2 linked regions of the Homo sapiens genome follow. The protein of the gene in region 2 purifies or fractionates together with the protein of the main gene of each other region. This does not show direct contact. Each region holds a gene or a part of one and is shown on either strand. Other genes may lie near its edges.

Region 1 (3,655 bases), on a different chromosome or scaffold from region 2:
CTTGTCCAAGATAAAAACTTAAACCATGGGCTGCCTGGAGGAAGGAAGTCAAGTATCTTCTCACTCGATCCAAATTTGTGCTCACAGAGTGAGTTATTACAGGGTTTCCCACATTTTATAGGACATTTTAGGATAAAGGCAGCAGTGAAGCATGAGTTTCTGTGCCTTTTTGTGAGTATACTCATACCTAAGCTTCAGTTTCTCTGTCAATTTTTCTAAATTGTGGTAAACTACATATAAAATTGACCATTTAACCATCTTTAAGAGTACACTTGAGTGGCATTAAGTACATTCACACTATTATGCAACCATCACCACTGTCTGTCTTCAGAACTTTTCATATTCCCAAACTGAAACAATGGCCCCATTAAACACTACCTGCCCATTCTCTCTCTCCCAGCCCCTGGTGCCCATCATTCTTTCTGTCTCTATGAATCTGACTACTCCAGGGACCTCAGCTAAGTGGAATCAGACAGTATCCGTCCTCTTACGACTGGGTTCTTTCACTTAGTAGAATGTTCCCAAGCTTCATCCATGTTGTAGCATGTGTCAGAATGTCTTTCCTTTCTAAGGCTGAAAGTATTCCATGTTTTTGTACAGACCACATTGCTTTCTGCATCCATCCATCAATGGACACTGAATCATCTCATCTTCTGGCAATTGTGAATGTGCAGAACAGGATGTAAGTTTCCATTTGATATTCCTGGAATTCTGAGTAATGGCTCTCTGTAGGCTTCTGGGAGAACTGAATGTAAGAATGTTTACAACTCTACATAGTCTCATCATTTTAAATCTTACCAATTTGTCAGTCTTTTCCTTTTAAAAAATGTCACTTTTGGTAGGAGGGATAGAAAAATCTTATAAACTATTCACCTACCTTTCTTCTGAGATGCTTATTGCTTCCTCTTAATATTTAACTTTAAACTTTAACTATTTTGGTATAATGAGATAAGTAAGGGCAGTATTTTAGTTTTTTCCCAAATATTAATTATCCTAACACCACTAATAGATACTCAAGCTGATATAGTCCACTATTTGATTTGAAATGCTGCATTTATCATGTGTCAAATATATATATCTAGGTCTATTTCTGGGCTTTCTACTTTTTTCCTATTCTCTTCTATTTATGTTTTTATAAAATATGGTTCCAGCACCATGCTACGTAAATTATTGTACATTGTTCTCTCCCTATTTTGATTGGTTTTTAGTTTTTTTTTTCTTGGCAGTATTTTGTAATCCCCTTCCTATTCTTCTAGGTGAATTCCATAGTCCTTGTTGGGGAACAAGCATAGTCACACACACACGCGCACACACACACACGCACACACACACACACACACTCCACACATCTGTGGGACGGCTGCCACTGTCCCCTGGAAGGCCTGACATCCTGGGCTTGGACTGATCCATGATGAAACCCAGGCAAGCGCACCTGAAATATGGGTGGTTCTCAAAGAAGATCTTCTCTCTCTGCAGGGCTTCGGACAGGCTCAGCTGGTCCTGGATCTCCTGCTGGCCCCGGCACTTGACAATCATGTAACCCTTCTTCAGGTGGAACACGAGGTTCCGCACCACGTCCACAACCTTGTCTTCAGTTCCTTTGTCCACCAGATCAGGCTTCGTCAAGATTCCTGCGAGCCAGATGTATTTGGGGAGAGAACGTGCTCAGTCACGAGGCAGAGGTGAACGAACAACTGCTCACGCCCCCGGCCTCCCAGGGTTTCCTCCCATCCTTGCTTGAGGACAGGCCATAGCCCCTGCAGAACCATGGGGGCAGTGGAGCCCCGCTCCAGAAAAGAACTCCACGACAAGCCGCGTGAAGGCAGGGATGCCTCCCAGAACAGCATGTGGCTCTCCCCAAGCTCCTTCACCCGGGTCCACTGTAGAACACGCCACGTTTTGTTTATCCCTTGAGTTATGGACATCCCATCTCAAATGCATTCTTAATGAGTACCATGTGCCTCCTGAGTTTGACCTGCTTCCGAGCCCACTGTGCCTTTCTGAGCAAGTAGATAAGGCTTACAAGGCAACCTAGCCAGTGAGAGTCAAAAGCAGCTCATTTCACTTGGCCTTGGTGGGCACCAAACCTGCTCCCTTAGCAGGTCTTAGTGGAGGCAGGTCCCCACTGAGCAAAGCCCATGGAGACTGGAGGGACGCTTGCCCACTGGCAGACCACCGAGCACAGGCGGGCTCCCCCATTCTCACCGAGCACAGGCGGGCTCCCCCATTCTCACCGAGCACAGGTGGGCTCCCCCATTCTCACCGAGCACAGGCGGGCTCCCCCATTCTCACTGAGCACAGTGGGGCTCCCCCACTCTCACCGATGGTCCTGTCTCCCTCGGGGTCCACCTCCTGGGCCATGCTGAGAGCCTCTGTGGTGGCGATGTCCACATTACTGGGGACCACCACCAGGCTGATTGTCTCCTGCCTCTGGATGTACTTCTTGATGAGTGTCTTGATCTGTAAGGAAATGAGAGGAGGTGACTCGTGAGTATGGCAAAGGCAAGTGAGAGGTGAGACAAGTCCTGACCTTGCACTTGCTTTAGGCCCTAAGAGTCCCAGGGGTATTTCCCCCAAAAGAAGTAACTTTGGAGAAATGAACCCACAAACACAACCCTGGAGGTACCAAGCTGGAATTATGAGAAAATAAATTATCTGTGGCAGAAGCAGAGCTATAGGCTCAGGGAAAACCATGAAGTTTCAGATAATTAACCCCTAAGACCTCAGATCTGATGGTCACAATGAAAAATGGTGGCCAAAAAACCCCACTTCACCCCTAAATCTTTAATCTGTAAAGTGAGATTCACTGATACTAAAATATCATTATACCTATTTCTTTCTTGCTTGTTTTGTTTTGTTTTTTGTTTTGAGACAGATTCTTGCTCTGTTGCCCAGGCTGGAGTGCAGTGGCACAATCACGGCTCATCACAGCCTCCCTGGTTCAAGCAATCCTCCTAGTAGCTGACAGGTGCACGCCACCATACCTGGCTAATTTTTTAACCTTTCTTTTATAGAGAAGGGGGTCTCACTATGTTGCTCAGGTTTCTGTCAAACTCTTGGGCTCAAGGAATCCTCCTGCCTCAGCCTCCCAAAGTGCTGGGATTATAGGACTGAGCCACTGTGTGTGGCCCATTATACTTATTTTTAATGCTCTCTTCCCACATAAGACCCCTTCCTAATACACAGCACTTTAGATATGCTGCAAAATGTATATAACCAAAAACAAGTCATTGCATAAAACATAAAACAAATACACAGAACACATTTCCAACTGTGCCCACTGGCCTCACTTTCTCCAAAGAAGCTTCCATTCAACTTGACAGAACAGACTGTGACCAACGGGCTCTCTAAATTCCCCACTCACACCTCCAAATACTAACTCCAAAACTCAGCTCTGGACTCACGGTTACTCTAATACAGTACCCTCTTTCTCCTCCCACCCCTCCACTCCCCCATCCCCACGCCACGGCCAAGGTCAGAATGGGTCTGAAGTCTGACCTTATACCCAATGTCAGCAGGCTGATTGCCCACAGCCACTCTGGTTATGCCAGGAAGGTCTATTAGAGTCAGATCCGGGACATCTCGGGAGCTGATCTCCAGGGTGATTAGCTCATGACTGATTCCCATTCCTTCCCCGGCGATGGCATTCTGGGCT
Region 2 (3,655 bases):
TGAAATTGCCTAATGATGCCTTTCTCAGGACGTATTTGATGTATGACTGCATGATCATATAGAAAGATTTAGGGGGCCTACTTACAAACATACTTTTAAATAAGATGATCTTCCAAGTCATTCATTGCAAATCTAACCATTTTATAGGGACACTGACATATTCAAAAACAAATACTGTGGTCCTTTATGGGTTACTCTATACTATTTGATAATAATTTGTGTCTCACACTCAAGCAGTCTCCCACTCTTTATTACTTGTTATTTACTGTTATTACATATATGTTTGTGTGTTTACACATATATACTTATATGTATGTTGTATACACATATATATTATATTCCTGTACATATTGGGCTCTAGATAAAATTAAAGAAGACCCAACTCTGCTTGTCAAACTGCAACTACCACAAAAGAGCATTCATTTAAAGTGTGACCTCAGTGTGATTCAGGGCATGCAGCTTCACTTTACCTTAGAATGAAAGGGATCTTTACATAAAAAGAAACTCATGCTGTCATAAATGATGGAGATGATTGTACATAAATCATGATAGATTCTCTGTTCTTCACTCCATGTACACTATGCCTGTCCTCTCATCCCTCCATTGTGTTTTTGGAGATTCATATTGGTGTATGATCAGCTACTTGAATGAACAGTGTGTTAAAGAGGTTGAGCATAGCAGCTGATGACAGACCAATTCAATCATCTATGCATTCATTTATTTCACTCATCTATTCAAAAAGCACATAGTCAGCACTATTATACTAATTCTGTGAAAATAAAAATTACAATGTGTTATGAACTATGATCCCGGTATGCAAATTGTGTTACTTCTCCACTATCATTTAGAGATGAAATGCATTAAAAATGTGGCAGAGTATCTGAACACTTTTCATAATCTGATTTGTAAAAACTCTATTGTCAATGAAGTAGAATGAAAATAATTTAAAACAAATCCCTCATGCCACCCACAATGGAACATCATGTATTGTCAAGTCTTTGAAATGCACTCTCAACTTACTTTCCAAATATCACTCCAAAGAAGTCTCTGGCTTTCTTTAGTTCAGTAAGCATTCCTGAGAAACACTTGTATCTGTCCTCTTTCAACTCTAACTACTCCTCTCATAGTGTAATGGAACAAAAGCCCTCCTTTAAGAATTCTGGCACAGTACCACTTAAACTGAAACACATTAATAACTGGTTATATAAATCCTATAAAAATGAGCATTATAGAGTAAGTAGCTGACTGAAAGTTAAGTTTATTGAATAATGGTGGGTAAATTATTTTTGTAACATAAGAAATAATATGGTACTCAATATATTGTATAAGTGCAACATTATCACAATTGGCATCATTATATAAAAATATGCTAAAAGTTTAGCCAAGTACAATATTATGAAAGTATAAAATACATTAATTATGTCAATTATGAAGCATAGTATTTATGGCACTCTAATTCAGTTACAAACTCACACAGTTTTGAAAATCCTCCGGTTTTCTTTAAAAAGTTTACTGTCTAGATCTGGAGACAGATCTTTGCCAGCCTGCAAGACAGAATATAACAAGCTCTTTGCTTGTATTTATACTTGGGACATCTGGAGAAATGAAGGAAACTTTCAAGGATACGGTCATATTGGATTTAACTAGGCACAAACTAGGCACTAACTAGGCACTAACTAGGCTTTAGTGCCTGCAGAATATTTTTACAGAAACAAAAAGGTAGAAGTTATTCTAGACAGAGGGAGCTTTGCCAGGAAATGCAACAAAAATGAAAAGCTTACGCATGTGCCATTCATCTATTGATTCAATTATTCATTTACTAATATTCAACAAATATCTACTGAATGGATAAGATTTTAGTGATAACTTTTGTAATGGTAGTACATATATTCAAAGAAAGTATTCCTTCAACCTCAATGTCAATAGGTTTTGGACACAATCCTGTCAGCGCAAATGCATATATATGTTTAGTAAATATCATGACAAATTCAGCTAATCGATGTCTTTTGGGATGCATGAATGAGAGCTCCTCTCAAATACCAAGGGACATTAAAATAATTGGAAAATTAAAATTTCAGGGAAAACTAAAACAAATACACTTGTCTAGAAATTTTACATAACATTGATAAGATGTAGTATAAACCTAACATGGCCTAGCATGACCTTTTTTTTAATAAAGACATTTTATTACCAGCTTACAGATGGTCAAAAGGTTAGCATGATAACTTTTTATTTATAAATTATAAGCTCATGAGTATTTCTAAAAAATTATAATCTTGAACTTTGTTCATAAAAACAAACTTTTTTTTTCTTTTTACATGTATTAGATTTATATTTAAGAATAAGAAAGGAAGTCATTTTGAGATCATCCTGCTCAAGATAAGTAGCTTATCTCTTGCTCTGCTTCAAAACTGATGGAACTTTAACAGACTATTGTTTCAAATTCTATCCCCATGATGGGGACAGTTGTTTATATTCCAATGTTATAATATTTTTAAAATTCAAGAAACAAATAGCTGAAAAAATGAATTTATGAAACTTGTTAAAAGATTATTGATTGTATTTTAGAAACCACAGGAATTAAGTAAAAAGAGTGTAGTCTTTACCATCAGGTAGACGTAGTACCTGATAGTAAAATTTGATATACTTCAAATCCTGCCTTCCCACAAAGCAATTTTGTGATTTTCATAAATTTCATCTTTCTCAGGTTGTTAAAATGTGATAATACTTCAGTTTCAAGGTAGATGTTAAGATAACAATGAAAAATAGCTTTCTTTTTCAAAGTTTCTCACATAGTGCCAAGTGTACATTAAATTCTCATAAATATTGGCCCATTTTCCCTCTTTTCTTTTTTCACAATAGGTCCTGTTTCAGGTAAATTTGAACTCTTGATAGTATTTGCTTGAAGTAATTTTTCAACATATTTCAAAATCTAACAGCAAACCACAGACAGAATATAATTAATGAATATCTGATTCATTTAATTTCACTGTCATTTCTCAAAAAGAATGCAGTGTGCTAGATAAAGCTATCAAGGCATATTTTTAAATTAATGTTTTAATTAACATTTCTAATTTTATATGTAACACTGTGTCCATGTGTCACTTAGTGTCTCTCAAGAAGTCATTATTCTATGACACTGCTATATTTTTAAAAAGAGAGATAAAACATACACTAATATTAATAGGATATTACATACAGTTTAGTTACAATAGTAGATCAAGTTCTGAAACTATTTCTTTCTTATTCTATTAAAATTAAACAACTTTCAGGAGGGTCACTTATATTTTTTAAACATTTAAATACAGCACTTAATTTGCTAAATAGTTCATGAAACCACAAGGTTTTGAATTAATACATTTTCAATGCGCATGCCTTTAATTTTCAGTTTCCCAAACAAATGGTGTCTTTCCCTAAATGCATTTTTTGCATCATAAAGTTATTTTGGTAATACTAATGTTCTCAAAAATTAGGTCTATATTTGTGCTGATTAAAAAGACACAGCCATGATATTATATCCCTGATCAAAATATTCTCAAATCTCTTAAAATATTGCGGGGTCAATGCCTCTGGAAGGGTGAGAAATAGAAAACATGAGTAGTGAGATAGTTCTAAATCAACTCTTCATTATAACTAGATAGAAACAAATTCCCAA

What was found. Proteins that work in one complex are often made in the same cells at the same time.
Region 1: the proteins of TRPC4 (region 2) and MX1 purify together in Homo sapiens (co-immunoprecipitation; one study listed by IntAct). This does not show direct contact.

Annotation. Positions count from the first base shown.
Region 1 is NC_000021.9:41,439,692-41,443,346, reverse strand, and holds part of MX1 (interferon-induced GTP-binding protein Mx1), read right to left. Parts: intron 3,654-3,655; coding exon 3,499-3,653; intron 2,461-3,498; coding exon 2,322-2,460; intron 1,632-2,321; coding exon 1,433-1,631; intron 1-1,432.
Region 2 is NC_000013.11:37,863,147-37,866,801, forward strand, and holds part of TRPC4 (short transient receptor potential channel 4), read right to left. Parts: intron 1-3,655. UniProt on the Homo sapiens protein: Forms a receptor-activated non-selective calcium permeant cation channel. Acts as a cell-cell contact-dependent endothelial calcium entry channel.